Regions from separate parts of the Homo sapiens genome. Here all the other regions are linked to region 2. Evidence: fine-mapped expression QTL. A gene starts in region 2. Each other region holds a variant in brackets. All regions are shown on one strand. Distances are from middle to middle.

Region 1 (2,769 bases), 230 kb before region 2:
GCTTCTTAGGATTGTTAGGAAAGGGAGAAAGATGCTTAAAGGGAATGTAGAAGGATACCAAAGACAAATTAAGTCCATCTTATAATTTTACCTACAGCCAGTCCTGGTAAAGTTTTGCATGAGTTGATGAAGTTACCCTATTCTTGGAATTAAAAATATTTGTTTTTAATGACCAATAATGAATCTGTAGACATTGGCTCATTTTATCAACTGTCCCAAGAGAAATTGAAAGACTGCCATGGCAATGATCCCTAAAATCTACTGGAGGTATGAAGCTAAACTAAAGACCTTGCTAAACATATGGTGATTCTTCAAGGCAATCCAGATTCCAAATATTCTGTCATTCCCATGGACAAGTTCTCTTTCTGATTCTGAAAGTATGATTCCTGTGACCAAAAGGTAGGGAAAGGCTAAAGCTGGATTGAGACTTTTTCAGATTTATGGTCATTATCTGGGAGAAATATGGTGCAGCCATTTCTACACTCTGTGAAGTTTCAAGAGATGCAGAAAGGACACTTTCTCCATGAAATTAGTTGGTTTTAAGGGTTTCCTTGATGAGGCAAAATGCAATAAATTTCTTAAATATAATGCATGCTAAGTATAAAAAATAAAAGGATAATTAAGACCCTGTCCCTATCCATAGCCTAAAGGATTTATGAAACTTTCTGATTCAGCTCAACACCTCATGATCTTTAAATTGTGTAGACTAAGCCCGGTAACAAACAATCCCCAAATCTCAATGGCTTAGACAATTGATTTCTTTCTTATGTCACAGTTCACACTGTTGTCCAACAGGAAACCTGCCATGTGGTGATTCAGGGACTCGGGCTGCTTCCCTCTGGTGGTTTCAGCACTTTCTTCTAGCATCTTAAAGTCATCCCCTAGATCCTCAGCGTCTAACTAGAAGACAAGGGAAGAGGGAAATGTGGAGGATCTCATGAAATGTATAGGAGCCAAGCAGGCCTACAAGGAGTGTACATCACTCCTGCTCACATTCCATTTGCCAGAACTCAGTTCCACAGTCCCACTTACCTACAGGGAAGGCTGAAAATGCAGTTTATCTAAATGCCCAAAAGGAAAAAGAAATAGGTTTGATGAACAACATAGCATTGTTTCAGCCACATTCAACACTTGAAAATCCATACTTTGTACTTTCCAGATTAAATTAGACACTAAATGGCCAGGCGCGGTGGCTCATGCCTGTAATCCCAGCACTTTGGGAGGCCGAGGCGGGCGGATCACAAGGTCAGGAGATCGAGACCATCCTGGCTAACACGGTGAAACCCCGTCTCTACTAAAAATACAAAAAAATTAGCCAGGCGTGGTGGCTGGTGCCTGTAGTCCCAGCTACTCGGGAGGCTGAGGCAGGAGAATGGCGTGAACCCGGGAGGCGGAGCTTGCAGTGAGCCAATATCGCACCACTGCACTCCAGCCTGGGCAACAAAGCAAGACTCTGTCTCAAAAAATAAAATAAAATAAAATAAAATAAAATAAAATAAAATAAAATAAAATAAAATAAG[A/T]CACTAAACTAATCAAGCATACCATCTTGAAATAAATATTTTTCTAAAATATTTTTCTAAAAATTCCTGTTACAATGAATTACTATTCTCCAATTTTTACTACCTCCAGTAGATTATACCTCTACTTTCTTTGCCACGTGCCTCCTACTGTGGGCAGCCTATTCTTCCACAATCCATCAACAATGGGTTTAACCATGTGACTTTTTTAAGCCAATGAATGCAGGCAGACAAGAGCAGAGGCTTTAAATCTGTTTACCTGGTTTGGTTTGCTCTCTTGCCATCCTGGGATCCATCATGATGAGGGCAAACCCCAAGTTGTTGCTGCCCCTTCCACCTGGACCTCAGAAAGAAAACACAGGTAACACACCTGAACTTGAAGTCCAGCTTGGCCCAGCCAAGCCAAACCTAGATCAACCAATCCTCATCCAAACGGCAGACCCATGATCATGGATACAAAGATTTATTATTGAGATTGTGAGGTTATTACATGGCAAAAATGAAATATTATCATTCCCATGTTTACATACATTATAACCCAATGCAGCAGGTTCGATAATAGTTGGTTGTCTCACTGAAAGTTTTTGAAAGCAAAGAATTATTCTTCTTTATCCAGTTACTAAAATTCAAAATGATGGGTTTTGTGACCCTCGGTGAGAAAATAGACTGTCCTTTAAAGTAAAATTTTATTTTCTCAACAAGTATCCAAGATTTGACATAGGAAATACAGGCTGAGCATCCATAATCTGAAAATCCAATATCCAAAATTCTCTGAAATCCAAAATTTTTGAGCACTAATATGACTCTCAAAGGAAATGCTCATTGGAGCATCTCAGATTTGGGGTTTTTGGATTAGGGATGCTCAACCAATAAATAATGCAAATATTATAAAATCCAAAATCAAAACAATTTCTGATCCCAATCATTTTGGATAAGGAATACTCAACTTGTAATATAAATGATTTATTAACAAATGTTTCAAAATTTAAATATCTAAATGATTGTTATCTTTCAAAGATCTGGGAAGTTTACATGCTTGTTCCAACTACACTACCATTACTAAAAACATTTTCCATTTTTTGTTGTCATTGCCATTACTTTTAGGGATGCGATATATTTATTATCTCATTTTCAGATAAAATAGATCTATTTTCAGATGAAAAAATGAGATAATAAATGTGTCACATCTCTAAAAGTAATGTCAATGATGAGAAATGGAAAATGTTTTTAGCAATGGTAATGTTTTTAGTAA
Region 2 (2,769 bases):
CTGTAGTCCCAGCTACTTGGGAGGCTGAGGCAGGAGAATCGCTTGAACCTGGGAGGCAGAGGTTGCAATGAGCCTAGATAGCGCCACTGCACTCCAACCTGGGCGACAGAGCAAGACTCCGTCTCAAAAAAAAAAAAAAAAAAAAACCGCCTGATCCAGGCCGGGCCTGGTAGCCCACGCCTGTTAATCCCAGCATTTTGGGAGGCTGAGGCTGACGGATCACCTGAGGTTAGGAGTTCCAGACCAGCCTAGCGAAATCCCCTCTCCACTAAAAATACAAAGATTAGATGGACGTGGTGGCACGCGCCTGTAATCCCTGTAATCCCAGCTACCTGGGAGGCTGAGGCAGCAGAATCATTTGAACTGGAAAGGCAGAGGTTGCTGTGAGCCGAGATTGTGCCACTGCATTCCATCCTGGGTGACAGACCCAGACTCCGTCTCAAAAGTAAAAAACAGGCAGGGTGCGGTGGCTTACGCCTGTAATCCCAGCACTTTGGGAGGTTGAGGAGGGCGGATCACGAGGTCAGGAGTTTGAGACTATCCTGGCCAACATGGTGAAACCCTATCTCTACTAAAAATACAAAAATTAGCTGGGCATGGTGGTGCGCGCCTGCAGTCCCAGCTACTCGGGAGGCTGAGGCAGGAGAATCGCTTGAACTCCTGGAGGCGGAGCTTGCAGTGAGCCGGGATCGTGCCACTGCACTCCAGCCTGGAGACAGAGCAAGACTCCGTCTCAAAATAAATAAATAAATAAAGTAAAAAAAAAAAAGGAACACTTGATCCCTGAGAACAAAGTCATCTTCATTTATTTCTCTTTCCAATCACAGGAAAAATAAGTCACAAAACCTTGTACTTTATTACAATGCCACATTGTTCTGTTTTTGAAGTCCTGGAAGAGGTAATAACAGAACCCCGTATCTGAGCCACTTCGCCTAGGTTAGACCCACTCAGCAACTCCCGTGCTGAAGACAGGAGACCGAGCGGCTTGGGCCCCCGGCCAGAATTCTCAAGACGCTCTCGCGAGAGCCTTCCAACCGCCGCGAGCTCTCGTGAACACTAGTTCTCTTCAATCTCAGCACCTCCAAGGGTCAGCACCTCCCCTCCGGCTCCCTCCGCTACCGCGGGCCGGAACTTTTGTCGATAGGAACGGGTTTGCACAGTTGAGTGTTGTCGGCCGGCGTGAAGGAGACTAGGGGGCCATCCTCTTCCTTTCGCCGTCGCCGCCGCGGAGCGGAGTCGAGCCGAGCTGATTTGATCGAGGAGCGCGGTTACCGGACGGGCTGGGTCTATGGTCGCTCCGCGGGCCGCTCCGCCGGCTGGTGCTTTTTTATCAGGGCAAGCTGTGTTCCATGGCAGGGAACTTTTGGCAGAGCTCCCACTAGTAAGCGATCTTCCGTCTTCTCACCTGGGGCCGGTTTTTGGGGGAGCTGTGAGGACGGGGCCTGTGACTCCCCTGGGCCTGGATCCCAGCTCAGTTCCGAGTGCCGGGGTCCTCACGGGAGACCGCAGCGGTCAGAATCAAGATGCGCTTTTCTGAGGCGACTCCCCTCCCCGCCCCCAGCCCCAGTTTCGGGGAGGGAAGGATCTGTGAGGGGGAGGGGTGGGAGAGAGTTTCGTCTCCCGGGAAGGAACGTTTCGGAGTTTAATTTCGGATTCTTGGTTTAGCTAGGCCGCGGGGGGTCGGATAGAGTGGGCACAGGTACGGGAAGTGTGACTCAGCTCAAGACTGTGAGGCTACCTGTTCAGGACAGTTGTGGCGTGCTTTTACCTGGGGTTTCTTCGGGTGATCGGCGTCGTGGTCTTTTGTCATTCACTGTATATCTTGAGTGGATTTAATATTATGAGGAGAGGAGAGAGTCTGGCTTGTTTCTGCCTACTAACCGCTTCTTGCGCGTACTTTATGTCTAGATGGAGTTTTATATTGATAAGGTATAGGGCAGGTGCCCTCTAAATTTATCCATTTCATTAGCCTGTGCTTTATATTTTGTTTTAAAGGCCTATTTTTCCAGTGACTTTGTTTACCTGTTTCTTTAACCTTTTTCATGAATAAGTTCTTGTTTCTGTCAGTGACCATGTGAGAGCTAGAATAATATTAAAAACATTTATCCCTAAATACATTTGTTTAAGCAGGCAGGAAGGTGCGTTATGGGGTAAATTGAACATTTGAGTAGGCTTTCCACTGTATAGTTGAAAGATGAACAGAATTTGACAAGGTATCTTGGTATAATTTTTTATGCTAAGAAAGCATTAGTAAGTAATTTAAATTTCGATTCTGTGAATAGGATCTGTTCCTGATGTTCATTTTTTAGCCCTTTGCAAAGAGAAAAAAAGAAACAATGAACTCAGTAACCTATTTAAGGAAAAGCAGGTTTTCCTCTTGCTATAAAGTGATTCTGTGGAGATGACATGTTAAAGAAGCTTTACCACTGATCATATGTGTGTGTGTGTATATATATGTGTGTGTGTGTATGTATATATATATGTGTGTGTATATATGTTGCATTGTTTTCACACACTGAAATATTGCTTGGGCAAAATTAAAGTATCGAAAGTTTAGGTATTGGAGTTAGAGCTCCTGAAAAAAAAAGTTTAGGTAGTGGAGAAGAGATATTCTGATAAACTCTGAAAGAAGCTGAGAGAATTGACAAGTAGCTGACTGTTGATTTTTCAGTTTTTCAACTTAAAAAAAAAAGATCCTGCCTTATTTTCAATAGTGTTCTCATTATGCTTTCATTTATTCATAGCATTCTAAAAATATGTTTTCACTTT
Region 3 (2,769 bases), 87 kb after region 2:
GGAGAGTGCATTAAAGGACAGTGACAAGCAACTAAAGATTGGTGATATCATTTGATCTAATAGTTTTATTAAGCAAAGGGCAGAGGATATGAAAATACCTGTGTTTTTCAAGGCAGGTATTCTGTTTTCCATTTTTATATATTTTATTTATGAAATAATAAAGTTTCTTAATACAATTGAGGCAATTTAGTTGGTGTTATTTAAGCAGAGTGTAACTCACAGATTTTTAATATGTTATTTTTAAATTGTACATTTCTGACATAGAGTTGATCATGTTTTTAAAGGACCCATTGGTGGTGGAACTTTCAAGGCCTGGACCACTGACCTCAGCCTTGTTCCTGTTTCTTCACAGCATGAAGGAGACTGAAAAAGGACCACTTTCTCCTAAAGTTCTTTTTAATCAGCTTTGTCAGAAGTGGGTGCATCTACATTTAATATAAATAATTATGAGTTACAAAATACTAATGTATTCATCATTTAACATGAATAGTCGTTTTTACTGTAACTTTGCTCTTATTGCCCTGACTATGAAGAGAACTAAAATTTGTTACAGCTCTATGCTTTATGAAAATTATATCTCAGTCCTCAGAAGAAGCAGCTTATCCTCATATATAAGGAAATGGAGACACAGAAATTAAATGGCTCACCTAGTCTGAGTGAAAAGCTGAGAATCAAATGGAGATCTGTCCTGACTTGGATGCCTATGTTGTAATACCATAAAGTGAGAAAACCATAGAGTTGTAAAATCTAGAAAGTACCGTAAGATAACATCTAATCTAGCTTTCTTATTTTAAAAGATGAGCTGTGAGGCAAATAGAGTTTAAGTGAATTTCTCAAGGTATTACAGTATGTTTAAAAACCAAATCCTTATGTGCCTGGAAATAAACACATAAAGGATCTGACTTGACTTTAATGCATTCATGTATTCATTTATATAAAAAATTGAGAGCTTGCTTTTTATGAGGTACTTGCTACAATTCAGGGGTACACAACATATATTGCGTCACAAATGCACCCTGTCCTCATGGAACTCACAAGCTAGTCCAGTCCACAATTACTAAAATATGTAGAAGGAAAATTATTTGAATATGAGCTTGTGTTTTTGTATATCTATAGACTTTAAAATCTCATTTTAATTAAAACTAGTAATGAATGCCATGATATTTTAAATATAGTCCAAAATAGAGGGCTTAGTGTATGTTTCATTTGGTTGGCAAATGATGTTTCTTCAAAGCCTGAGGACCAAAAAAACCTGCAAAATTCTCAGAGGCATGAGTGTCTCACAGAGTTAAAAAGTTTTTAGCACAGCC[A/G]TAATAAAGAATGAAATCATATTCTTTGCGACAACATGGATGCAGCTGGAGGCCATTATTCTAAGTGAATTAATGCAGGAACAGAAAACCAGATACCACATGTTCTCATAAGTGGAAGCTAAACATTGGGTACTCATGGACATAAAGATGGCAACAGTAGAGAGTGGGGATTACTAGAGGTGGGAGAGATTGAGGGAGGAAGGGTTGAAAAACTAACTATTCGGTACTATGCTTAGTACCTGAGTGACGGGATCATTCGTACTCCGGACCTTTGCATCACACAATATACCCAGATAACAAACCTGCACATGTACCCCTTGAATCTAAAATAAAAGTTGAAATTAAAACAAAAAAAGTTACTAGGTCATTGTATGCTTTAGAAATTTGTTTCTGACTTTGCCAGAAATAACTTGTTTTGTATAGTTTTCTTCCTGGTTATAAAGGTTTATTAACATTTTAAAAATTACTATTAAAATAATGGGCACTCATAGATAAAAATTCAAACTCCTCTCTATCTTTACTCCTCAGAAGTAACTATTATCTGATTCTTTCCAAAAGTGATCATACATACACAGACATATGCAAATTTTTTGCAACTTGCTTGATATATTTTATACATCTTTCCATGTTAGCACATGTGTGTATAACTTACTCAGTTTTGTATGAATACACTGTACTTGCGGAAGTACATCTGTAGGATAAATTCTTAGAATAACTAGATCAAACATTATTTGAAGATTTTTATGTATTTTTTGTATTTTTTAGGAGACAGGGTCTCGCTCTGTGCCCAGGCTCAAGTGCAGTGGCCCAATCATAGTCGAATTCCTGGGCTCAAGCATGCCTCCCTGCTCAACCTCCCAAGTAGCTGGGATTACAGGCATGAGCGTCATCCATGCTTGGCTGAAAAGTTTTAAATTGCCTTTTTTTTGTTTGTTTTATGGCGTTTACTTTTAAAAGAAGTATACATTAGACAAATATATTTTTTTAAAATCAAGTAAAGATTTAAGCCACATGTGTTTGGGTTTATTTCTGAACTATATTCTGTTTCATTGATCTACATGTCTTGTCTTTACCCCAAAGCCTACACTGTCTTGATTACTGTAGCTTCATAGTAAGTCTTGCAATTGAGTAGCATAAGTTCTCAAATTTTGGTCATCCTTTTCAAACTATTCTAGGTCCTCTTTTTTTTTTTTGAGACGGAGTTTCGCTCTTGTTGCCCAGGCTGGAGTGCAATGGTATGATTTTGGCTTACCACAGCCTCCACCTCCTGGGTTCAAGCAATTCTCCTGCCTCAGCCTGGGATTACAGGCGCCCGCTACCACACCCGGCTAATTTTGTATTTTTACTAGAGATGGGGTTTCTCCATGTTGGTCAGGCTGGTCTTGAACTCCCAACCTCAGGTGATCTGCCCACCTTGGCCTCCCAAAGTGCCAGGGTTACAGGCGTGAGCCACTGCGCC

The links.
Region 1: its variant is fine-mapped to the expression of CCNC in whole blood (INTERVAL, PIP above 0.99).
Region 3: its variant is fine-mapped to the expression of CCNC in whole blood (TOPMed, PIP above 0.99).

The regions. Positions count from the first base shown.
Region 1 is chr6:99,798,527-99,801,295 of GRCh38, reverse strand. No RefSeq gene overlaps it. Among named protein-coding and RNA genes, the nearest start is that of PRDM13, 190 kb to the right of the region's middle. The variant A/T (reference allele first, on the strand shown) is at 1,521.
Region 2 is chr6:99,567,108-99,569,876 of GRCh38, reverse strand. CCNC (cyclin C) reads left to right here and starts at 1,217. Exons shown (of 12, transcript NM_005190.4): 1 at 1,217-1,381. The coding sequence starts at 1,350. It also overlaps the pseudogene TSTD3. RefSeq lists enhancers at 860-909, 1,030-1,319, 1,440-1,519.
Region 3 is chr6:99,480,399-99,483,167 of GRCh38, reverse strand. It overlaps USP45 (ubiquitin specific peptidase 45), which reads left to right. Exons shown (of 18, transcript NM_001346022.3): 8 at 285-415. Among named protein-coding and RNA genes, the nearest start is that of USP45, 34 kb to the left of the region's middle. The variant A/G (reference allele first, on the strand shown) is at 1,311.